Linked DNA regions of Homo sapiens: regions 1, 2, 3, 4 and 5 are each linked to region 6. Evidence: fine-mapped expression QTL. A gene starts in region 6. Each other region holds a variant in brackets. All regions are shown on one strand. Distances are between the middles of the regions.

The links.
Region 1: its variant is fine-mapped to the expression of SNX30 in whole blood (INTERVAL, PIP 0.99).
Region 2: its variant is fine-mapped to the expression of SNX30 in whole blood (TOPMed, PIP above 0.99). The same link has a PIP of 0.9 or more in blood mononuclear cells.
Region 3: its variant is fine-mapped to the expression of SNX30 in whole blood (TOPMed, PIP above 0.99).
Region 4: its variant is fine-mapped to the expression of SNX30 in whole blood (INTERVAL, PIP 0.97).
Region 5: its variant is fine-mapped to the expression of SNX30 in whole blood (INTERVAL, PIP above 0.99). The same link has a PIP of 0.9 or more in subcutaneous fat.

Annotation. Positions count from the first base shown.
Region 1 is chr9:112,888,762-112,892,849 of GRCh38, reverse strand. It overlaps SLC46A2 (solute carrier family 46 member 2), which reads left to right and starts at 1,974. Exons shown (of 4, transcript NM_033051.4): 1 at 1,974-3,297. The coding sequence starts at 2,169. The variant C/A (reference allele first, on the strand shown) is at 2,249.
Region 2 is chr9:112,861,588-112,865,675 of GRCh38, reverse strand. SNX30 (sorting nexin family member 30) reads right to left here. Exons shown (of 9, transcript NM_001012994.2): 8 at 1,277-1,429. Among named protein-coding and RNA genes, the nearest start is that of SLC46A2, 27 kb to the left of the region's middle. The variant G/A (reference allele first, on the strand shown) is at 2,257.
Region 3 is chr9:112,907,955-112,912,042 of GRCh38, reverse strand. No RefSeq gene overlaps it. Among named protein-coding and RNA genes, the nearest start is that of SLC46A2, 19 kb to the right of the region's middle. The variant G/T (reference allele first, on the strand shown) is at 1,687.
Region 4 is chr9:112,856,015-112,860,102 of GRCh38, reverse strand. The region is part of intron 7 of SNX30 (sorting nexin family member 30); the gene reads right to left. Among named protein-coding and RNA genes, the nearest start is that of SLC46A2, 33 kb to the left of the region's middle. The variant C/G (reference allele first, on the strand shown) is at 2,335.
Region 5 is chr9:112,872,539-112,876,626 of GRCh38, reverse strand. It overlaps SNX30 (sorting nexin family member 30), which reads right to left. Exons shown (of 9, transcript NM_001012994.2): 9 at 1,640-4,088. Among named protein-coding and RNA genes, the nearest start is that of SLC46A2, 16 kb to the left of the region's middle. The variant A/G (reference allele first, on the strand shown) is at 2,319.
Region 6 is chr9:112,748,883-112,752,970 of GRCh38, reverse strand. SNX30 (sorting nexin family member 30) reads right to left here and starts at 2,211. Exons shown (of 9, transcript NM_001012994.2): 1 at 1,814-2,211. The coding sequence starts at 1,969. SNX30-DT (SNX30 divergent transcript) reads left to right here and starts at 2,406. Exons shown (of 1, transcript NR_186503.1): 1 at 2,406-4,087. RefSeq lists enhancers at 523-1,442, 1,443-2,364 and a silencer at 1,634-2,453.

The DNA of each region.
Region 1 (4,088 bases), 140 kb before region 6:
AAGGTCAGGGCTCTACTTGCTGGTAGCCTGGGCTGCAGAGGATGACCAGGTGCTAGCTCACCTGGGGCCTGCATTCAGAGATGGAGCAAGAAGTGGGGACATGATGAGAATATAATCCAACCCACAGTAGCCTAAACTGGGAGAGACACTGACTACCCTGAGTCTTGTTCATTTCCAGGCCAGAGAACTCAGAAGCCTGGGGGTTCCTAGGGCTGACTAGCATCCTAATAACCCAGCTCCTACTAGATCTGTTCTAGATCTGATGTGACTCTCTCAGAGACCCTTCAAATGTCCCTGGTTTCCCAAGACAATGGGAAGAACTGAAATACCACAGACCCTCCCAGAGATGACAAGGGCTGCCCCCTACAGTCTAGAGCCCTAGAATGCACAGACTCCTTGATCAAGTGGCCAGAGTGGTCCATCTGGGTCAGGTTGTTCTCATGGCCATATTTGATTGTGGAATACCACCTGGCCCCATAACCTACTCATTCACTGGAGTCTCCACCCCTCATAGGATCAAGGTGTTTGGACTGTTTGCTGTAGCCTCTGGAAAAATTAAGAATGGAGTGGGAGAGCCAGGCTTGGGTTGGGTGAAACATGTATCTCCCAAGGTGACCCTAGGTGAGGGGGAGGAAGAAGGAAATGGGCTGCTGGGCCAGATCCATGGGGCACATCTTGAAGGGCAAGACTAGGTGTGTCTTTCTCTTTGCAGAAGGCAGAGTCGTCTGGGCCTAGACACGAGGAGGCTGGGCCATGCTGGAGGTTGAGGGTGGCAGGGGAGGAGATTATAGCCCACCTAAACACTACCAAAAGAGCACATAGATACACTAAATCATTTGGAATCCAGTCCCTACTCCCTACATGAGTATATTATCCATGTGGCATTTTAAGCTCTCCCTGCATACCTGCGTCTCCCTTTCATGTCTTTGGGTTCCTGATCATCCACGCTGCCAGAGCTATAGTGGATTGTGGGTAGAGGGACAGGAAGGCTGTGTGCTTTGAGTCTCCATCCCTGGGGCTGACCATGGAACAGGTCATGCTCTGTGGTACATTTTGGCCCCTGCACCATCCATCACCCTGGTTTTCTTTGCAGAAGTATGTACCTAAACAAGAAGCGAGGCCACCTGGGAAGTGGAGGTCTCAGCCCAGCCCAGGGGAGTGAGCCCACAGACAGAAGAAGAGTGACTACTAACAAGCAGAAAGGGACCTGGGCACTTGATTCAGATGAGGACCCTGGTGACTCTGCCCCTTCCAGTGGGCTCAAGCCCCTGCCCAAGAGTCCAGTTTTATCATCTAGGGGGACATCTAGGGCTGGCAGGATCTTGCCGTCTCTCCCTTGGCCCTGGGGTTTGGGGCAGGAGCCTTCTAGACAAGGCCCAGGCACTAGGCCCACCAATGCAGGTGTACCAAACAGGACTCTTCTCTAAGAGGCCTTTGGCTTGGAGAAGAGCCTGGACCTGGCGGCTCCCAAGTTTTTACTTCTCTCAAAGTGCTACCCAGCTGCCTATAGCACATGGGCCCCTGTTGCATTAAATCTATAAATAAAACTTCACACCCCAATACTTATCCTAGGCAGAATCCTAGGCGTCCCACCCCTCGCGCAAACCTGCCTTCCTGGGATGGGAGAATTTGGAAACGCTCCCTGAGCCAGTCCTGGGGAGCTTCCTTCCAGCCCCTGCCCCGGTGGTGGGGGGTCCGCAGAGATCCGCGGGAGGTCCGGGCACGCACGCCTGGCTGTGGGGAAATTCGGCCCCGTCAGGCGGCCGCGCTCACAGGAGCAGCGTGACCCGTCGGCCCCGGGGGTGCTGGCGCCAGGAGCCAGCACTCGCGGTGCGCTCCCCCGCGCCTGGCTTCCCTGGACTGTCGCCAGTCCTACTCTGCCTGAGGTGGCGAGGGCAGGGTGGAGCGCGGCCTTTTCTGGCCTGAGGAGGAGTCACTCGGGAGGTCACTCGGCTGCTGGGCGGGCTGCTGTCACAGGCGCTGCGTGCCCTGGCTCTGCTCGCCACTGGCCGGCGCGCTCCCGGCGCACGGAGCACACTCGCGCTCCCGGCGCACGGAGCACACTCGCGCTCCGGGACTGAAACCTGAGCAGCCGTAGCAGCCGAATTTGGGAGCATATCCTTGTCACTGCAGCCAGAAAGCCCTTCGATCCCCATCAGAGAGGTCACATGAGCCCCGAGGTCACCTGCCCGCGGAGGGGCCACCTGCCTCGCTTCCACCCGAGGACCTGGGTTGAGCCCGTGGTGGC[C/A]TCGTCCCAGGTGGCTGCCTCCCTCTACGATGCGGGGCTACTCCTCGTGGTGAAGGCGTCCTACGGAACCGGAGGCTCCTCCAACCACAGTGCCAGCCCATCGCCCCGGGGGGCTCTAGAGGACCAACAGCAGAGAGCCATCTCCAATTTCTACATTATCTACAACCTTGTGGTGGGCCTGTCCCCCCTGCTGTCCGCCTACGGGCTGGGATGGCTCAGCGACCGCTACCACCGAAAGATCTCCATCTGCATGTCGCTGCTGGGCTTCCTGCTCTCCCGCCTCGGGCTGCTGCTCAAGGTGCTGCTGGACTGGCCAGTGGAGGTGCTGTACGGGGCGGCGGCGCTGAACGGGCTATTCGGCGGCTTCTCCGCCTTCTGGTCCGGGGTCATGGCGCTGGGATCGCTGGGCTCCTCCGAGGGCCGCCGCTCTGTGCGCCTCATCCTCATTGACCTGATGCTGGGCTTGGCGGGGTTCTGCGGGAGCATGGCTTCCGGGCATCTCTTCAAGCAGATGGCTGGGCACTCTGGGCAGGGCCTGATACTGACGGCCTGCAGCGTGAGCTGTGCCTCGTTTGCCCTGCTCTACAGCCTTTTGGTGCTAAAGGTCCCTGAGTCGGTGGCCAAACCCAGCCAGGAGCTCCCCGCCGTGGATACCGTGTCTGGCACGGTTGGCACATACCGCACTCTGGATCCTGATCAGTTGGACCAACAGTATGCAGTGGGGCACCCTCCATCTCCTGGAAAAGCAAAACCCCATAAAACCACCATTGCCTTGCTCTTTGTGGGTGCTATCATATATGACCTGGCGGTGGTGGGCACAGTGGACGTGATCCCTCTTTTTGTGCTGAGGGAGCCTCTCGGTTGGAACCAAGTGCAGGTGGGCTATGGTATGGCTGCAGGGTACACCATCTTCATCACCAGCTTCCTGGGTGTCCTGGTCTTCTCCCGCTGCTTTCGGGACACCACCATGATCATGATTGGGATGGTCTCCTTTGGGTCAGGAGCCCTCCTCTTGGCTTTTGTGAAAGAGACATACATGTTCTATATTGGTGAGTCTGTCATTCTTGAGGAGGCAGGACATTGCTAGCCCTCTGCATCATGGGGCTGACACCAGGGATGCCATGGTCTGGGTGTCCTAGCTCAGCACCAGGGATTGAACCTGCTACCTAGGAGGCACAAGGGACACAAGATTATATGCCCCTGAGTTTATCTGTAATGTATTGTTAATTAATTATCTATATTGAGAATGAAATGTTACCAGAGTGGTGTTCATGGTTCTGGGCAGTCAAGGAGGTGTGGTCAGTGGTACCTGGAGTCAGTAGGGGAGGCTTCAGGATGGCCTTCAACAGAGGAGATGGAATTGGGTTTCTTCCCCCACACCCCCTTGCCATTTTAAAGGGATGGAATTTCAAAGGCCGAGCGCAGAGGCTCTCGCCTGTAATCCCAGCACTTTGGGCGGGAGGTGGGAGGATCACTTGAGGCCAGGAGTTCAAGACCAGCCTGGCCAATATAGCAAAACCTCATCTCTACCAAAAGCATAAAAATTAGCCAGGTGTGGTGGTGCACACCTGTAGTCCTAGCTACTCAGGAAGCTGAGGCACAAGAATCACTTGAACCCAAGAGGCAGCGGTTGTAGTGAGCCGAGATTGTGCCACTGCACTCTAGCCTGGGTGATAGAGCAAGACTCTGTCTCAAAAAAAAAAAAACAAACAAACAAAAAAAAAAAAACGTGGAGGAGTGGAATTTCAAGTAATTCTACTGAAAAGATCCCTTAATTAAAATCATTTGGAGTCAAGCAAGGGCTTTTTAAAAATGCATTAAAATACTCGGTAAATGCCTT
Region 2 (4,088 bases), 110 kb before region 6:
CATACATACATACATATATATATATATATATATATATATATATATATATATGGCGTGACAGGATCAAAAAACTCTGTTACCCAGGTTGGAGTACAGTAGTGCACAATCATGACTCACTGTAGCCTTGAACTCCTGGCTCAAGCCATCCTCCTGCCACAGCCTCCCGAGTAGCTGGAACTATAGGCACACGCCACCACACCTGGCTCATTTTGTATCTTTTGTAACGACAGTCCCACTACATTGCCTAGGCTGGTCTTGAGCTGGGCTCAAGTGATCCTCCCACCTCGGACTCTTCAAGTGCTGGGATTACGGGCGTGAGCCACTGCACCTGGCCTCGCACTGGTTTGCTGGACATACGAATCAAGCAAACCTTGATTGAGGGGACTGGGCTGTAGCCTGATAAGAGTCATCTCTATGTGTGTGTGGTGTGTGTATGGTGTGTGTGGGGGTTGTGTGTGAGGGTTGTGTGAGGTATGTGGGTGTGGTGTGTGGGTGTCGTGTGTGGGGGGGTTGTGTGTGGGGTGTGTATGTGGGGTGTATGTGTAGGGGGTGTGTGGTGTGCATGTAGTATGGGGGGTGTGTGGTGTATGTGTGGTGTGTGTGTAGTGTGGGGGGGTGTGGTGTGTGTGTAGTGTGTGTGTGGGGTGTGGTGGTGGTAGTGGGGTGTGTGGGTGTGTGTGTGTGTGCACGCGCATGTGCGTGCGCTGCTTAACCTGGTCAAGGGGATCCATGAGTAAAAGTTTTTAATAGAATTGCTTTCCTTTGTAATCCTACATCCCTTTATTTTACGTATTTAAAATCAATATTTTGAAGTCTATTTAAAAAACAAATGCACAGTATTTTGGTGAGGGGTCTATAGGCTTCACCAGATGACCAAAGGGGTTCACTGCACAACCAAACTGAAGGGACCCTGTGTACAGAACCCCAACACAGAGTAAAGTAACCCCAAAGCCTCCATTCGGTGGCAGCATCACTGTGCTGAAGGTCTGACTGGCTCTGGGAAGCAACCAGTGCCAGGCCCAGAAAGCATGGAAGACGAATGGGCTGCTTCCCCAGCAGCATGTGCAAGGGAAACCCCTGTGAGCACCCCCTCTGCTGCCAAACCCAGCACTGCAGCCACATGGTTGGGCAAGGGCATGAAGCGGGAGCCAAGACTAAGCAGCTAAAATAAGGGAAGGAGATGAGACTAGCAGGATTCCCAGCTTGTGGATTTCTGGTAGGCCCATGTGAAAGGCTCTGGCCATTAGAAACCAGTCTTGTTGGGCACACTCATTACCTTCTCATAATACTGGATGTTCTTGTCAGCCATCCCCATGAGTAGCTGCCGGAAGTCCTGCCTCTTGTTGTTCTGCCACCTCTCCATGTCAGCTTTCAGGTCAGCATTGAAACACTCCATCCGATCCTGACATTTCTCGACGTCCGCCGGTACCTGGAAAAGGGAGGCACACATGGGTGCCCTGCACACAAAACTGGCATCTCTTGCCTTGAGCTCCTCTGAGCACACATTTGTCAAAGGCCAAAGCCCTACATTAAAATGCTATCAACACGCTCCCTCCTCTGGAGGCATTTATTTGAAAGCAAAACCTTGGGTTTTCAGGTCTAAGGAGGAGCTCTGAAAAGGGGCTCTCCTAACCCAGATCTTCAAACCCATCCAAACACAACAGAGACTCGTGGGGGAAACACCCCCATTTACACACAGGAAGAAGAAACATTGCAATTCAGACTCATATGTCTTTGGTTCCTTTTAGGATTTACTCATCCACACTTGAAAGTGTGTGCAGACTTTGCAAATATACAGCATTTGTATTGCCCTGCTATTCTCCTGTGTCCCATATTGGAACTAGAGAAGAGGTAGGTTCTCCCAGATCACATGAACTATTCCATTGCTGTGACATTTGATGATGCCTTTCCTCATTAATCAGAGAATTGCAATAAGACAACTACTGGCCAGCTGCCTCCTCTGAACCCCACATCATAAATAAACTGGAGGCTTGTTTATGCTTTTCCCAATAGCAGATACTTTTAAATGGAGAGTTAGAGAAGTCTGAGAAAACAGGAGGAAAGTTACTTATGCATGTCAAAAAAATTTGAAATTCAAAGAAGAAATATACAGCAGGCTATTTCAAGTTTTTCTTAAAGAGGTTTAGAAGACTTTCTCAAAAGGGAACTATGTCACTTGAAGTTTCACAACTTTCACTTTGCTTTGGTGAATTTCACCATCCTGTGCAGCTGGAGTTTGGGCTTTGTGGCTGCAGC[G/A]CTTCCCAAAGCTGGCTTCTCTCTCCTAACTCAAGCACTTCACTGAGCCCTGATGGCGGCCAGGGAGCCGACAGGCCCAAAGCCAGGTCAAACCCCCGACCTGCCAAATGTATCCCAACCACAAGTGAGGCCTTTTATGTTTGGTGTGCTGGGGCCCATGAACCAAACTGTCTCCAAGCCATGGCTCACCCCTGGGAGTCCACTTCCACCAATCGAGGAGGTTTATACCCAAGCCTCGTGGACAAGGAGCTGACCCAGAATGATGCCAATGAGAAAGACAGGCCTGAGGGAGCTGGACACCTTCAGGGTACTCAGCCATCTTCTCCACAGACCACGTGGAGATGGTTGTAGAACACAGGAGTCAGGGAAGAGACATGGCCAAGGCAAGTGAATTTGAATGTGCCTGACACGGGAACTAGACATGGGTGAAACCAGGATGAGCTGGAGAGAGAGATAACTAGACACTCTGGAAATTTAAAAGCAAGGAATTTTTCTGTTAAGATGGGGAAAGAGGCCTTCTTCAAAGCACATAAGCTTCTGGAAGAGGGAAAAAAAAAATACTGGGCTGAGTGCAGTGGTTCATGCCTCCCAGCACTTTGGGAGGCCAAGGCAGAAGATCACTGGAGGTCAGGAATTTGAGACCAGCCTGGGCAACATAGTAAGACCCCCATCTCTACAATAAGTAGGATGTGGTGGCGCTATGTTGTCCAGGCTGGTCTCGAACTCCTGGCCTCCAGTGATCCTCCCACCTCGGTCCCCCAAAGCACTGGAATTACAGGTTTGAGCCACCATACCAGGTCAGAGACTGACTTTTTCTTCTGATGCCATGATTTAAGTCTCTTTTGCCTCCTCCCAAGACCACCCATTACTATTGGTTACCTCAGGAAAAACTGAAATAAAAACCAGAGTATCCCAGTCTTGCCTCTCCAGAGTCACTCCAGGAATCAGCCTCAATGGAAAGATGCCCAGCGAGCCAGTGTCTCTGGCTGGCCTCACCTCCCCACAGGCACAGGCCAGTTCCCTTACCCGTCTCCTGGCCACTGCTCACACTTGCATTGGGGTGAGGGTGCCTATGAGCAACTTCCTGTTTGCTTAACGAAACTTCTGCTGTGAGGAGAAAATGGAAAGCCCTGGAAAGAGAACCTCACCAGGACACGTGGAGAGGAGGGCAGCCAGGGTCTCTGAATCAGGACTGTTCACAGAGGAAAGATTCCCAGGTTTAAAGATTCCCAGGTGTGTTCTGGAGATGGGAACTCTGACTGACCCAGAAAAATCAGGGTCTAAACCACGGCTGTGGGTTTTAGGACTGCCTGAGCCTCGGTCTGGGAAATATTTGGCTTCTCAGTTTCACAACACATTCTGTGCTTGGCACTGAGGAATACAAAAGTGCTTGGGTCTCAACAGACAAATCTTGTCTCCCGTAACCTACAGTCTAGTTGGGAAGAAACAGGAACATGCCTAGACACTGAGGCAAGATATCGTAAGTGTTGTCGCTTCCCCTGCAGCCCCCGTGATAAGCACGCTGAGGAGGATGGAGGGGGCGGCCAACCTGGGAAGATCGGGCCTCATGGAGGAAACAGCACTGAGGCGGCTCTTTAAAGATGACAGATGTGAGATGTTTGACCACTTGGAAGGCACTCCAGAGTGGCGGTACACACAAGGGACAGAGGAGAGAAGACACCAGGACCCACCGCAGGAATTGTGCACAGGCCACAGGGCCCACAGCGGCACGGAGAGGGAACTGCAGCTCGCAAGACTGGCAGAGGGTGGCAGGGGATGAGGAACCTGAGGCTCGTCCCAAAGTCCTGCTTTCCTGAGGCCCAGTTAACTCA
Region 3 (4,088 bases), 160 kb before region 6:
TCACAAGCAGGTGTCCAACAAGTCCTCATTAAATGAGGGAACGAATGAAAGAATTTGTACATACCACAGCAGATGAAGTCATGCCAGTTACCTAAGGGTAGTGTTTTCTCAAATATTGCATTAAAAAGTTTTGTGTGCACATGATTTGCATGACAAAATTAGACTTAGCAATTCTGTGGCCTCTTTCCTAAATACATTTAGACTTTTCTGGTCACATTAAGTCACATCTCAAACATATTTCAAATACCTGACTGGTTCAAACATCAAGCATATTTCTGTGTGAAGAATGGGAATAAGAGCAATGTCATAAAGTCCTTTACAGAGCATAAGCTGGGTTCAAAACTGGCCTGGAAGGAAGGTGTCATTGCCCAGGTTTTCTTCTGGAAATACTCCAATGTGGACATCAAGAGGGCGGCTGGTCACAAGACAGATACACCCTCCATCCATAGTTGTCAAAAGCGTCACACAGTCAGAAATGACCACTCCAAGAAACCTCAAGGACACAGCATTCCAAACGAGTTCTCTCCTGAGTATGAGATCTTGTTATTTTGATGCAAGAGGATAAAGCCTATAAGATATGACTTTGATGCCTCCCTGTCACCCCAGGAGATGCAAAGAAAGGTCTTCTCTGTCTCTTTTGCACCTCTGAGCTCAGGGACAGATAATATCCCCATTAACAGGCTATTTTCCATAGACACTTCAGGCATGCCATTTACTCCCACCCACAGTGTTTTCGAAGAGGAATAGCTAGGAAGCAGCTGCTATAAAATCATTAGCAGAGAACAGAGCGTTAGTATGAACATAAGGCCCAGCAGCACTTGAAAGGAACTTCATATTCCTGATTTGTATCAGCTTCTTGATAGTCTGTATCTCGTTTTTCTCCCAGGAGACAATTCTGACCTCAGAAATCACCAAAGAAATATTGGCTACATTATCCAGACCTGGGATCACTGCCCTTTCAACCTTGCAGCCCTCACCAGGACAATATAGTTTTCATCAGATATGCTCAAGTGTTACAAACTTTTGCTTTGAATACTCATATTCTCTTTTCAAGCCCAGAAATTTGAAGTCAATCTCCATTTTCAAACTTCCCAGGCAGATCAATTCTGCACTGGTATAATCCAGTCATCAGGTGGGTTCTCTCCCAAGTTCTAGAGAACACTGGTTTAAACTCCTATCCTACAGTTTATGGAAATTCAAAGTTTTCTCAATATTTCCTACAGGTTTCCAGTCCAGGGAGATTCTCATATTCTCAGCTGTGGGCTGGCAGTATGATATTACCAGAAGTTGAGAATTAGGTACATTGGCCCTGAAGGGGGCACATGAGTGAATACCACAATTTCCACTGCAGCTCACCTCTCATATTTCTCTGATATCCCTTTGGGAACGACTTTCCCGTAATTCTGGTTGGCTTGTTTGCTGGGAAACTTACAAGAGAAAGATTAGTAGGATGAACTATAGCCTCTACTGCCGCAGCTATCCTGACACCATAAATGATATTCATCATCCCCTCCACCATTTACAATCCTGTCTTCCCCTCATTTTTGGCTAGTACCTCTGCTGGTCTAGGCGGCTTACCTGGTGAGGTGACCCAAACCATTCATCCCTAAGTGTCTGAGCCTTGATTTACTATGCCTTTCTCAGACTGTGGCTGCTCCAATTCTCCAACTACCGTTACCACTGGGT[G/T]TGGGAACACCAAGATGTGCTTCATGGTGGGGTCCAAACATATTCTTCCTGTCCCCCTTGAGTAGCAGTGACCTTAATTGCCCCTGCATTCCCTTTCTTACTGCTGTTCTTTTGACACATGGAACTGGAAGCGCCCCAGCGACAGCCATAGCTTAAATTGCAGTGGGATTCTTACTGTCTCCCCTGGTGGAGGCAGCCCCTTTTAGTGCTAAAGCTGCAGGAATGGAAAGCACAAATTTCCCAAGATCACTGAGAGAGATGAGAAGTGGGGCCAGGCCTACTTCCATCCCCCAGTTTCCAGGCTCATGTAGTCTACCTTTTGGAGACAGAAAACAGCACCATGCAATGGTTATTGATTTAGGGTCTCCTGGGGGATGGTACCCCATCCTTATAGGGTGTTAATTCTAAATTGAGATCTTGACTGGTTTCATAAAGGCCATTCTGCCACTCTAATAGGGTGGCTTCTGGGTGACAAAGTTTGAGATAGAAGAAGTGGGTCCCATGGCCAGGTGTCCACTATATACTTTTTTGCTGTGAAGTAGAATGCTTAGCTCTGATATTTTGCTGTTATCCAACACGCCGTTCGGTCTCAGATCATGGTACTGGCTGAGGCCCCACAACAGGAAAGACAACCCGATACACAGAATATAAGTTGAGCCTGGTCAGGATGGTATCTACTCCTTCTATTGTGCAAGGGATCCAATGCAATCAAATAGCCACCAAATGGCAGCTTAGTTTCCTAGGGGATGAGGCTATATCAGGGTTTCAGTACTGGTCTCTGGGGCTGATAGGCTGGACTTTGAGCAGAAGCAACAGCCAGATCAGCTGTCAGGTCCATGCAGAGTCTCCATCCCTACCACTGTGGCTACTCTATAAATGCACTCATTATTCCAACACCCAGGTATCTAATAACAGAAGCCAAATGATGTCAACTGGCTGAGTCACTTGGTCTGTATTTGTTGGATAATGCCTCTTCTATAACAGATACTCCAGTGGGCTAATGCACATGTGAAACAAAGATCTTCACACCTCCCATAAGTTTGCCCACATGCCTCCTCCTCAGAGCTCCTTAACCCTGATCTTTCAATCTATCTCCTTCCAAACCCCCCAGCAGACCATTTGCTACTACTCGTGAAACCATGTATATTCATACCTTGGGGAACTTACATGACCAGACATACCTGCTAGAGATTTCCCCATTGGTAGGATTTCTCACTGCTAGCTTTTAGTACCACACCTATGTCCGTCTGTTTTTGTGTTGATATAAAGAAATATCTAAGACTGGGTAATTTATAAAGAAAAGAGGTTTAATTGGCTCACAGTACAGAAAGCATGGTGCTGGCATCTGCTTCTGGTGACGCCTCAGGAAGCTTACAATCATGGTGGAAGGTCAAGGGGGAGCCAGCATATCACATGGCAAGAAGGAGCAAGAGAGAAAGACGGCAGAGGTCCCAAACTCTTTCAAACAACCAGACATCATGTGGATTAACTGGGCAAAATATCACTTATCACCAAGGGGATAGTGCCAAACCTTACTCATGAGGGATCCACTCCCATAATCCAATCAGCTCCCACCAGGCCCTACCTCCAATACTGTGAATCACATTTCAATATGAGATTTGCAAGAGACAAACATCCAAAGCATATCAATACCTAAGTAAGGGTTGTGATGCAGCTACTGTCCTCTGGTTTGTACTGAGATATCGAGTTGACCCATTTGTGAACCAAGTTTCAACCTTTTCTTCCCCTCCATCAGCTGTCATAAGAGGTTCCCCATGTGGCTGGTGCTGAAGGAGAAGCACTGGACAACATGAGATCTGGACCACCTGCTTTTGTGGCTTGCTTGTTCCTTCTGACCCTACATGTGCCCTATCCCACTGGTGTACCACTTCCATCTTATAGATTGCTGCTGGGCCCACCCAAACTTATGATGTGGTAGTCTGAAAGAAAACTTCTCATAATGGATAGTTCTGGTTGCATGATCATCTGATGTCTCTTGCTCACTTGCTTCATATTCACCAGGACCCAACAAGGATGGTGGAGAAACTGCTTTCTGAATAGTGTACAGTCATCCCTCCATATAGGTGCAGGATTGGTTCCCAGAATCCCACAGATATCAGAATCTGTGAATGCTCAAGCACCTGACATAAAATGATGTAGTATTTGTGTATAATCCTCCAGTATGCTTTAAATCATCTCCAGATTACTTAATACCTAATACAATGTAAATGCTACGTGAATAGTTGTTGTGCTGCATTGTTTTTTATTTGTATTATTTTTGTGGTTATATGGTTATTTTTCCTGGATATTTTTATTCAATGGGTGGTTGATTGAATCCATGGATGTGGAACCCATGGATACAGAGGCCCAACTATACAGTTCTCTGCTATAGATGGAATAGC
Region 4 (4,088 bases), 110 kb before region 6:
ATGGTGGTGTGCTCCTGTAGTCTCAACTACTTAGGAGGCTGAGGCAGGAGAATTGCTTGATCCAGGGAGGTGGAGGTTGCAGTGAGCCGAGATCACGCCACTGCACTCCAGCCTGGCGACAGAGCGAGACTCCATCTCAAAAAAATAAAAATAAAGAAGATAAACAGTCAACAAGGACATGAAAAGATGCTCAACATCATAATCACTAGTGAAATGCTAATCAAAGCCACAGTGAGATAGCACCTCACACTCATCAGGATGGCTACTATTAAAAAAAATAACAAAAACAGAAAATAGGCCAGGTGCAGCGGCTCACACCTGTAATCCCAGCACTTCAGGAGGCCAAGGCAAGTGGATCACCTGAGGTCAGGAGTTCGAGACCAGCCTGGCTGGTCTCCGGGAGGCGGAGATTGCAGTGAGCCAAGATCACGCCACTGCACTCTAGCCTGGGCGACAGAGAAAGACTCTGTCTCAAAAAAATAGATAAGCGTTGGTAAGAACATAGGGAAACTAGAACCCTTGTACATTGTTGGTGGATTGTAAAACAGTATAGCTGCTATGGAAAACAGTATGGAGATTCCTCAAAAATTTTAAAATAGAACTACTATATGATCCTGCTGGATTCCACTTCTGAGTACATATCCAAAGAAATTGAAAGCAGGGTCTCAGAGATACTTGTATACACATGTTTATAGCAGCATTATTCACAGTAGCCCAAAGATGAAAGCAACACAGATGTCCACTGATGAATGGATAAACAAAATGTGGTATGTATATGTATGTGTATGTATGTATGTGTGTGTATGTCCCATATATATGGGATATTATTCAGCCTCAAAAAGGAAGGGAATTCTAACACATTACAACATGGATAAACCAAGGACATTACACTGAGTGAAATAAGCCAGTCACAGGATAAATATTATATTATTCTAGATACGAGGTATCTAGAATGGTCAAAGTCATAGAGACAGAAAGTAGAACAGGGGTTTCTAGAGGCCGGCAGGAGGGGGAATGGAGAGTTGTTTAATGGGTCAGAGTTTCAGTTCTGCAAGATGAAAAGAGTTCCAGATATCGATTGCACAACAATGTAAATGTGCTTAACACGACTAAGCTGTACACTTTTAAATGGTTAAGATGGCAAATTTTATATTCTGTATATTTTACCACAGTATAATCTTGTTTAAATATATGGAGGGAAAGGTGGGGCTGAGGGAGGCAGGGCCCAAGGTTTGAACTCACAGAGAAGCCAGCATGTGTAGGGTTAATAAAGGACTCAGCAAAAGTCACTCGGGAAGGCAGAAAGGCGGGCACAGAAAGAGGAGGTGGTGAATCAGAGAGAACAGAGCCAGAGAAGCCCAGGGGTGGTAGGAGTTAGAAGAGGATGGAAGAATTAAAAAGAGGAACTGGGGTGAGCTGTCTGTGACCAGCTTGTGAAGTTCCCCAACTTGAAGAAGGGGAGCGCTGGCAACTCATGCTCAGGCATGTATTCTTCCACCTTTGATTTTTTGGATAGTGTCTTTGTAACTATCAATTCACTGACCAGTAACACTAAGCATTCTTTTTACTTTTATTTTTTATTTATTTTTGAGACAGGTCTTGCTCTGTTTCCCAGGCTGGAGTGCAGTGGCACAATCACAGCTCACTGTAGCCTCAATCTCCCAAGTTCAAGCGATCCTCCTGCCTCAGCCTCCCGAGTAGCTGTAACTACAGATGCACACCATCACACCCAGCTAATATTTTTATCTGGAGTAGAGGCGAGGTCTTGCTACCTTGCCCAGGCTGGTCTCGAACTCCTGAGCTCAGGCGATCTTCCTGTCTTGGCCTCCCAGAGTGCTGAGATAATAACAGGTGTGGGCCACCACCCTCAGCATTTCCTCTTATCTCAATGTTTTAATTTTCGTGACTGAGGTATTGTTACGGTTGTGCTACCATGCGTCTGAAGGATGTTGACATGGCACAGCACTGCTAATGGTTGGGTGTTGCTTATCATGACACCAAGGAAAAATATCACCAGATAAGACCTCAAAAGATAAAAATTTATACAGAGGTGACAAAATTGCATTTTTCACCTTGGTTCCCAATCTCTCATGAGAATTTCCATTACAGAATATAGGTTGTTAGTGCAATGACAGAAGAGTCACGTGGATGGGACTGTGCATTTCTGTGTGCTGGGGAACGGGACAGTAACTTAAATTCACTCAACATTCATTTAAAAACGCATTACTCAGTGAGCCGAGATTGAGCCACTGCACTCCAGCCTGGCAACAGAGCAATAAATAAATAGATAGATGGATGGATGGATGGTTGGATGGATGGATGGATGGATGGATG[C/G]ATGCATGCATGCGTTACTGAGCTCCTTCCATGTGCCACGCATTTCCAGGCCCTAGAACAGAAATCTCAACTTAAGTCTCCTTCTTGGAGCTGGGTTGGAGATGTCACATTATCTGCTCTCATGATGATAGTAGGTTAGGAAAATCCCCAAAGACTACACAAGACAGATATAATCCCAAAGTGTGGAGGAAAGGGGAGCTCGTGGCTGCTGTAGGACAGGCTCCAGGACCAGTGACAGCCACACGCTGCTGAGTGAGCAGGGGACAGGGCTCCCTAACTGGCAATGTGTGAGTGGCAGAGAGATTGGTCCTCTGCCCTCTGGGAAGCCAGAGCCCCCAGGCTGGTCACCTCCAGCTTCCAGCAACTGCGTTTTCAGTGTCTATTTGAGCTGTGAGGTGAAAACAGGTAAGAAAACACTGATACAGGGTCAAGTCTGAAAAGAGGCCATGGAATTGGGCAAATAGAAAGTCAGTGGCTCTCTGAATGAATGCTTTTTTAATTATAGATAAAAACAAACTTCAGAGAATGGTCAGTGGGGAGTGAGGGAGGGAGAGGTGAGGGCATGAGATGAGGAGCAGAGAGGCTGACAGCAAGAGATCCTCGAGCTTGCCTGCGCAATGACACGAGAGTGAAGCCCCAGGGAAGGCCACACGCACTCTCCGTGCCTGCCTCGGGAAAGGCAGGGCGCCCCCTCAGGGAGCACAGCTGCTGGGGCCCGCGCCCTGGGGAAAGGCACCAGTTTTGGAGCCAGATGCACTTGGACTCCATACCGGCTCCACCATTTGTTGACTTTGGCACTTAAGTTCCACGCTTCCCCTGACCCCGGGCCCCCATCTGTCACATGGAAACCACCGCACTGGCAGAGGGTGGCTGCGGTGGGACTTAAGTCAGCTGAGGGGATGGGGGAGTTCTGCCTGCTCTGGCTGGAGGCACCTGGTCTTCTGCCCCATGGTGAGGGTCCTCACTTGCCAGAAGGGTCTGGAAACAACAGACACGAGGCCCCACTCTCCGGTCTGCATTAGCTCTGTATGTAGAAGTCTCCCTGCTGGCAGTTTACAATTGGGATTCTCACTTCACTACCCACCACGTCTTTCCCATTCTAGAACATTCACTATCCCGGTGGTTCTAAGAGCTGTCCAAGGTCTACAGCCTTCAAGAGGTTTGTCCAGAGAGCCCAATTTCCACTTTCCCTCTGCTCTTCTCTCAACCAGAGGGGGAACAGCTCTGTGCACCTTTCCATCCCAGTCACCTCCACACGACACACCTCCACACTTCCCACACCAATGCCCCACTCCCCTCCACACCCATGCTCCCCCAAAACACCACACCCACCCCCACACACTACATACCCCACACACACCACACGCCCTCCCTACACGCCACACGCCCTCCCTACATGCCACGTGCCCTCCCCATACACACACCACACACCCACCCCCCACACACACCACAGGCCAGCCCCCCAACACCGACACCCCAGGTCCCCTCCACACGGCCCATCTCTCCTCATCTGCACTCCGACACCACCCATTTAAACTTCTTCATCTGGCACCCACCCAGGATGAGGCTACCCGTGGGTCAGGGCCTAAAACAGCACCCTGCTTTTTTTATTTACTTTTTGAAGATAACTAGGAATTCTGTGAAGCCTTCTCCCTGGCATCCCTTCTTTGTTCTTTTTGGAGCTAGTTATACCAAGTGTATTAGCACTGAAAAGAGTCCAACGCAGAAGACAGGAAAAGGCAAGAGCTCCCTCT
Region 5 (4,088 bases), 120 kb before region 6:
GTCCTGTCCTTGGTTCTCTTCCCATGCAATCTAGTCCACCCCCATGGACTCCAGAACTTCATTTCCAACAGCCAAGTCAACATCTCCACCTGGATTTCCTCAAACCTAAAGCGAAACCAAGTTCTCCTTCTCACACCCCACCACCTAAGCTCATTCCATCTTTTTTGATTTTTAATTTTTGTAGAGACGGGGTCTACGTTGCTCAGGCTGGTCTTTAACTCTTGGGCTCAAGTGATCTCCTGCTGTGGCCTCCCAAAGTGCTGGGATTACAGGAATGAGCCACCACGCCCAGCCTCCATATTCTGTCTTTCTCTCCTAATTTTAGCTAATGGCATCGCCTCCAAATCCCAGGCTGGCAATCTTCCAGTCATCTCCGGTCCATTCTCCTCCCCCCAAGAATCTCTTAAATCGGCTATTTTCACCTCCCTTTATCACTTCTTGCCATGGCTTTTGGAATTTATTCCTCCCCATTCTTCAGGCCTTCAATCTGACACCGTCCTTCAGTATTTTATTTCCATCACCTTGTTAAAAAGAAAACAGGGCCAGGCACAGTGGCTTATGCCTGTAATCCCAGCACTTTGGGAGGCCAAGGCAAGCGAATTGCTTGAGCTCAGGAGTTCAATACCAGCCTGGGCAACATGGCAAAACCCCGTCTCTGCGAAAAATAAAAAAATTAGCCGGGCATGGTGGCACGTACCTGTAGCACCAGCTACTCGGGAGACTGAGGCGGGGGGACTGCTTGGGCCTGGAAGGCAGAGGTTGCAGTGAGCTGAGATCATGCCACTGCACTTCAGCCTGGGTGACAAAGCAAAAGAAAAAAAAAAGAATATCCTGTTAAACAAAAAAACTGGCAAAGCATACATGAAGGATTGTTATCCTTAATATTTAAATTGGCCATATCCTTAAGGATAATATCCTAATAGCCTTAATATTTAAATTAGGAAGTCTTTAGAAAGGGGCTATCACAGTGAGAAGCTGCCTGACATTTAAGTGCTTTGCATACCATATTGCTAGTCCTATCGACAACCCCATGTGGAAGTCTTGTTTTCATCTCAAAGATCGTAATACTAAATATTCAGCCAAGTGTGACTTGCCTAAAGCCACATAGCTAGTAAGTGGAAAAGCTGAGATTTGATCCATGATCCACGTCTTATTCAGCTTGCTGCCTTATTTTGTATGACTGCAGTCTTAAAGTAAGTCAAGTTGAGCACTATTTTAAATATACTCAAGTTCAATGCATTACCATCATCAGGTCAACTTAACTGGCCCTGATGCAGAATATAATGTTGTGCTTTGCTATGGGATAACACAGGAAATCTTTCATGTAGTAAATACCTCAGCTGGCTGTCGGCCTGCCTGCCAGTCATGATGGCTACTACACTAGGAAGTTTCTTCATCTCCCCAGATTGGTGCAGATGTGGAAGATGTAGAAGAGGGTAAATTGAGGGTAAACTGGGCCTATAAAGAAGTGAAGAAGAATAAAAATAGTTCAATTATATATATTTTTTCCTGTCGCTCTGTATGTCTTGATTCTTACAGGCAAACTGAAAACTTGTAAAGAGAAAATAAGAAAACAGAAAAATAGGCACACATGTTTTTCTGCCTTACAAAAAGGTACAAATGAGGACATGACTCCAGATAAAGAAAGCATCTTTTATGGGTTTATTGGTCCTTTAAGTTAATTGAAGTAAAGAAACTTTAAATTTACAAGCTAATATTTATCAAGCAATACAAATTCTTTTGTTTACCTCAAAATGTAATACTAATTCCATAGTAAACAACAATTTTTTTATACACAGATATATGAAAAAAGTGGACAAAAACCTCGTGCCAGCATCAAAAAGTCAACAAAAAAACGATTCTTTTTCCATTTTACAATCTCTGGTTTCCATAACAAACAAAAAAAAGGGTGACATTCTTTTTAAAGTTTGGTAGCTTCATGAAACAAAGACTTCCATCTGTAAATAAATCACTTTCTTATCAACACACTCTCTCAAGCACTTTTTTTATCACAGCTTTTGTTTTGGCATAATGGCAGCATGGAGAGAAGGTAACATTTACACGGTGGACTACATCAATACCTCAGAAGGTTTTTATTTTAAAATTTTAAACGTAAAGAATGACTTTTAAAAATAAGATGACAGTCCATAATGTGGACATGTCCAAAGCCGAAGTTTTTAATCTCTTCTTTAACAGTTAAAATACAAGTTAGAAAGTTTGCTGGCAGTTTATTTCACAGGAATATATCAGATGGACATCATCTCTCAATGCACTCCCAACTCACAGCAATGAAGGGAACAGGCACACAGAAATACAAC[A/G]GACAGGGAATCCACCAGACTTCATCCAAACTTCAGGGGTGTCTAGGCCAAAAGCGCCTTTAAGAGATGCTGGTTTGTTATTGGATAAAGGCCGAGATGACAGAGCCACTGCTTCATCACACTGACTCACATTTTGGTTTGCAATCCACTTTCCTCTCTCCTCATTTCCACATGGAGGAAAAAAAGTGATTTTCCTTTCCTCCTCCCAGTAACATTTCTGACTGAAGTGTTGGTCTAAGACTGCGAACAATCAATCCTGTCCAACAGGGGTGTTGCTGGGTGTCACCTACTAGGACCAGCCTACAGAGAGCCCAGAACCACCTGGTGTGGGAGTGCTGCTGCTGACAGAGAATATGCAATGCTCCTCGCCACTGGTGTTAACACTAAAGGCTCTGCTAAAATGGACTAAATTACATGAGTCAACATCATGTTTTCTGTTTTTGGCATTTCAACCCATAGAGAATTTCTATCTGAAACAAGCTGCTCTGAGGCTTGAAGATACCCCCCAGTATCTTCAAAAGCTGTTCTGCAGAATCAGGAGTAACATTTAATACTGTTGTCATCTATAGCATTCTTTGTTTCTACGTGATTTGTCAATGCCGATACTATATCCTCTAAAATCAAAAGTATGCCAAAAGGCACTAATCTTTCACACTTAAAAAAAAAAAAAAGGTTTTGTGGTCCCTGTGTTTCCTTACATTATCAAAAATATCATTTGGCAAAAGCAGTCCTTAGTTTTCCCCTCCCCAAAGCCAACCCTAGTGATGGCCCTCACTTTCTTGCTTGTTTCTTTAGGGGGCCTGAGGACTGACTATGTTAGATCTCTATATTATTGAAGCTGAACAACTGATTACATTTCTAAAACTCTTTCTACCCAGGACTTTTAAAACACTAGGTGAAGAAGAATAAGGCATATTAGTAGGTACGGACAAATTCTCAAAAAAGTAGAGTTGGGCTTTGAAAAGTCTGTGGCATTTTTTTAAATTCTGGATTTGTTGATTTTCAAGTGCTAAATACACAGAATGTTTATATAGGAGACAAATATCTTATTGGTTTGTTATTTTTTTAAAGCACTTATTTACAGACTCTCTGTAGTAGTAAAAACTACCTGGAAAACATATTTTTCTGCCACACAGAAAGGGTTAGACAGTCATACTCAGGATGTATCTCAAATTATGATGAAGAAAGAACAGTCTAATCCCCTGCAACAAAGCCCCCACCCCAACCTTTCTAACACAGACAACTTACACACACTCTGATACATGTAACTGTGAGACCAGGCATCTCTCAAACAAAAAGCTGACAATCTACAGGGTGGGTTGGTGAAAAAATGGATTCCTGGTTTATTCACTGAATTGAAAAGATCACAAGGCAGAACAAGGCCGAAGAGAACAATTCCAACACACCCAACGCAAGCTGTGAGGCTGGCCCAGGAGAGAACATTTTCCTCAAATTTACTGATACAGGCCTCCTGCCATCTGACAGACAAGACACAAGAAATGAGAGGGTGTGTCCATCTGCTGCCATCTTGAAGGCTTTTGGAAGTGAGACAGGAAACCCAAGCTCCCAACCTAAGTTTGTAAATGAGGGTGGCCAAAGCAGGGTTGCCCCAGCCCTATAATTGGATCACCCAGTTTCCACAGGTCCTTAAAGTAGGTGTCTGGGAAGGTGGAGTCCAGACTGGTATGCCCTGTCCTGACCACAGGCAGCCCATCTTCTGAGAAGAATCACCCTCAGTGCAGCCAGCAACCCATCTGGCCAGACTGGAAC
Region 6 (4,088 bases):
GGGGGGAAAAACCAGTTGCCACATCAAACAGCCCTATGGAGAGTAACTAAGACCTGCCAACAGCCATGTGAGTGAGCTTAGAAGTGGATCCTCCCCTAATCCAGCCTTCAGATGACTGCAGCCCAAGCCAACAACTTGACTGCAACCTCAAGAAAGGCCTAATTCAGAACCACTCAGATTGTCCCACAGACACTATTTCCAGGTGATAAGTTTTGGGGTAATTTGCTACACAGCAATAGATAATTAATTCAGTGTCCCACACAGAACTGAGAAGGAAATGAGGTTTAACCCCCAGTTCCTACACTATTTTAAGACCAATTTTTGTCGATAAGAAAGCAAATTTATTCAGTTATTCAACATTTTTTGGAGACAGGGTCTCACTCTCTTGCCCAGGCTGGAGTACAGCGGTGCAATCATAGCTCACTGCAGCCTTGAACTCCCAGGCTCAAGCAATCCTCCCGCCTCAGCCTCCTGAGTAGCCTGGATTACAGGTGCATGCCACCATGCTGTGTGCGTATGTGGAAACGGGGTCTCGATATGTTGCCCAGGCTGGTCTCAAACTTTTGGTTCAGAGCAATCATCCCACTTCAGCCTCCCAAAGTGCTGGTATTACAGGTGTGAGCCACTGCACCTGGCCTCCATTAGCTTTTTTAATTTTCCTGTTCCTAATGCTTTGGAACTTCACTCCCTGCTTTCACAAACCCTCTGCAGAAGGTACATCAAGTCGCACTCTCTAGTGATTTTAAGTGCTCAGTGACCTTCTGACTGCAAGGAGGGCAGGTTATATTTTCTCATACTCCTTTTTCACTGTACCACATGGTGTCCCCTCTAACGGGAGAAGAAAGTTAGGTCCCCTGCTCCCATTAATATTGGGACAAGGGGGAATTCATTTAGTATTTTACTAGGGAGAGAAAATCTTGATCACAAGACCTGAGAACAATTCTAATTTCTGCAGTTAGTGACTAAGTGACGGCAGGAGCGGGGATACAATCACTGCTCAAGTCTCCTTCACAGCTGAAATGGCCATGGGGGTAGGGAGGAGGTCGTCCCTTACCCCTGCCTGGACTCTGCTGTCTCTCCAAGCAGCAGGAGGGTTGTGCTGCTCTAAGAAAATCTGGAGCCTCCCTCCGTACAAAGAAGGTCAAAGGGCGAGCTTTCTTTCCATCAACCACAAAACCAGCCTCTGCCAAACCTAAACAGAGTGGTAGGCCGTCGGAGGTGAATGGAGCCCCAGACAGAAAACCACAACGAGGCTCTCCTCCCGCCGCCGGCTGGGGTCTGAGTCAGGTGACTCCTCAGGACAAACAGCAAACCTAAACAAAGATCACTCCCCACATGACTGACTAGGGGGAAGAAGACTCTCGCTGTAAGCCCAGGGCTGCCCGGTCCCAGCACGGAAAGCCAGGAACTCCTGCTTTCTGTGCAGTCTCGGAAACTGGAGGAGCTACAAGTTATGCAGCAGCTCAGCCTGCAGGGATGCACCTGGAGGAACTCGGAACCCCATCCGAGGACACAGGCGCCCTGCCCTGAACACACGCCTCCCGCTCCAACACGCAGGCTGGACCCCTCCCCACCAGCTGTCACCGGTGCTTGCGACCAGTCACAGGCAGCGAAGCCTGTCCCTCTGCGGCTGCGACCCCGCGGAGGCGGCAGAGGAGACGCTTCGCCGAGGGCTCCGGGGCCAGGACACGCCCGTCCCCCGGGAAGGGGCGGCAGGGTGGGCGCGGCCCCAGGCCCACGAAGGCTCCGGATCCATCATCCCCCCCACGGGGAGCGAAATAAGCCTCCCACTCCCCGGCCCCAGGCGCCCCACCTTGTCACCGAAGCTGCGGGCCATCAGCAGGTCCGGGCTGGGCGTGCTGTCACCACCCACGGCCTCCTCGCTGCTGGAGCCGGCCAGCGGGTGCGGCATGTCGCGCAGGGAGTGGGGCCCCGTGGACGGCAGGGCCTTGGGGGGCCCGCCCGCCATGGCGCGCACCGCTCGGGACGCGCCGCCGCCGCTTCCTCCTGCTGCCCGCCGCGGCGAGCTCCCCGAGCACCCCGGGCCGAGCCCCGCTCGGCCGCCGCTTAACCCGAGGCCTTGCACCGGCCGTGCTGGGGGCCGCCGCCACCCGCCGGCTGGTCTCTGCCGGCGCTCAGACGCTCCGCTCCGCGCCGCGCGCCCCCGCTCCGCGCCCGAGCCCGCCGCGGGTCCGCTGGCAGCACGGCCGCGGCGCCCAGCCCACACAGCCACACCGCCCACCCGCTCCGGCCCCGCCCCCGAGGCGCCGCGGCCGCCCGGGAGGGGGCGGGGAGGGCGGGGAAGGGGCACGTGGGGAAGGAAGGACGGAGGGAGGGAGGGAGGAGGCGCGGCCCCGCCCCCGCCCGGCAGGAAGTGCGCCCTGGGCCTCTGCGGCTGTCCTCCCAGTGTCCAACGTTGCCTCGCGGAGGCCGCCGTGCGGAGCAAATGTCTAACGGAAATCAGAGGTGGAAAAGAGGTTGGAGGAGCCTGTTCCGTTCCACCCGCGTTTACTGATGCGCCCACCAGCAGCCACGCTTGGGGCTGGGGGCTTTGAGGACACGCACGTGAGTCAGGGTCTTCTGGCCTCTAAGGCACGCGCAGGAAGAACCCTAGATAGACGGAATTACGACCCATATCGGAAGAATAGCATAAAGGGCGACAAGGCTCAAATGAGCTAGAGGACATCGGGTGGGGAACCTGGAAGGGACTTCAAAGAGGCGGTGTGGGGAGTCTTCAGGCTCACTCTGAGGTCCCCATTGTGGCTTGCTTCTGCAGCTGAGCTGGATTTGTGTAAAGTCAAACCTCAGAACAGCGAGCATGAGTAGAGAGTCTCAAATGATATGCGACTCTTCAACTCACACTTTGGCCGAAGAGACTTTTGAAAGAACCATGAGGTTCAAGTTATTCTTCATGCATTTGTGCTTCCTTTCCAGGCCTTGGGCTGAGCTGATTCTCAGCTTTATTTGCTGGCGTGGTGCAAATAGTCAAGGTGTTACTTCCAGCCCTTTGGGGTGTAGGTTCACCTCCTTTTTCCACCTTACCTGTCCCTAGATCTTCTGTTTCCAAGGCCAAGTCTTTAAAGGGTTTTCAGTCCCTCTAGCAAAGTAATGGGTAGGGAGGCTCATCGTGAGGGACCACATTTTCCCTACCCATTCCAAACTCAAAGGTTTGCCTAGCCTTACCTGCTAAAAGGTGATGACAGATGTTGACTCTGGGATTCACTAAGGCCTCTACCACAGTTTTCTCTAGAAACAAATAGAAGAGAATGCAGAGGGTTGAAATCTACCCAAAATATCAGTCAGAGACTCTGAGCTTCAAAGACCTTCCCCTATTTCCCCCAATGTAATTTATATAGGGTTGGACCCTTAGTCCTCAAGCTATCATCTTTATCTCCTCCACATAAGCCTGCCTTGGCTGGGAAAAGTAGCATTCAAAGGGCACTGGGAACAATTTTAAATGCTGCATCTAAGGAATGCCAAGTTCTGGTCCTCTTGGAGTTGGATTAAAATTGTTAACACTTTCACATTCAAGGGCTGCTTACAACTACTACAGACCCTATTATCTGTTCTTCTGAATTAGCATGAAAATGAATAGCACAATATAACTAGAAATGAGTATTTCTAGAAATGAGTATATACATCTATAGATGTATAACATCGGTTTTTCTTATTGAATGGTGCTACTTATTTTAACAACCAGGCTGCCTTAAATATAATGGACATCCGTATGGATTAAGACTCTATACAAGCTTTCTCTTTAGTACACCAGGGGAAAGTGAAAAAAGAACCACATTTGAATTCGGCTTTGTCACTACAAGTGGGTGACCATGAGCAAGTTACTAACCTCAGTGAACCTGTTCCTAACCTAAAAAGGAGGAGAATGGAGAGCAGGTAATAATACCTTATGAGATGGTTGTGAGAGTTATATAGCATTCTTTATGTCATAGTCCTAGCAAAGTGCTGGCATAAAATAGGTGCTCCCTAAATGTTAATTACCTACCTTCCTTTCCCTTTCTGTCAGATTTTCTCTACTATTCTTATGAAATAATAAAGAGTTTTTGTAATTAAATATGCTTTACTATTCTGAG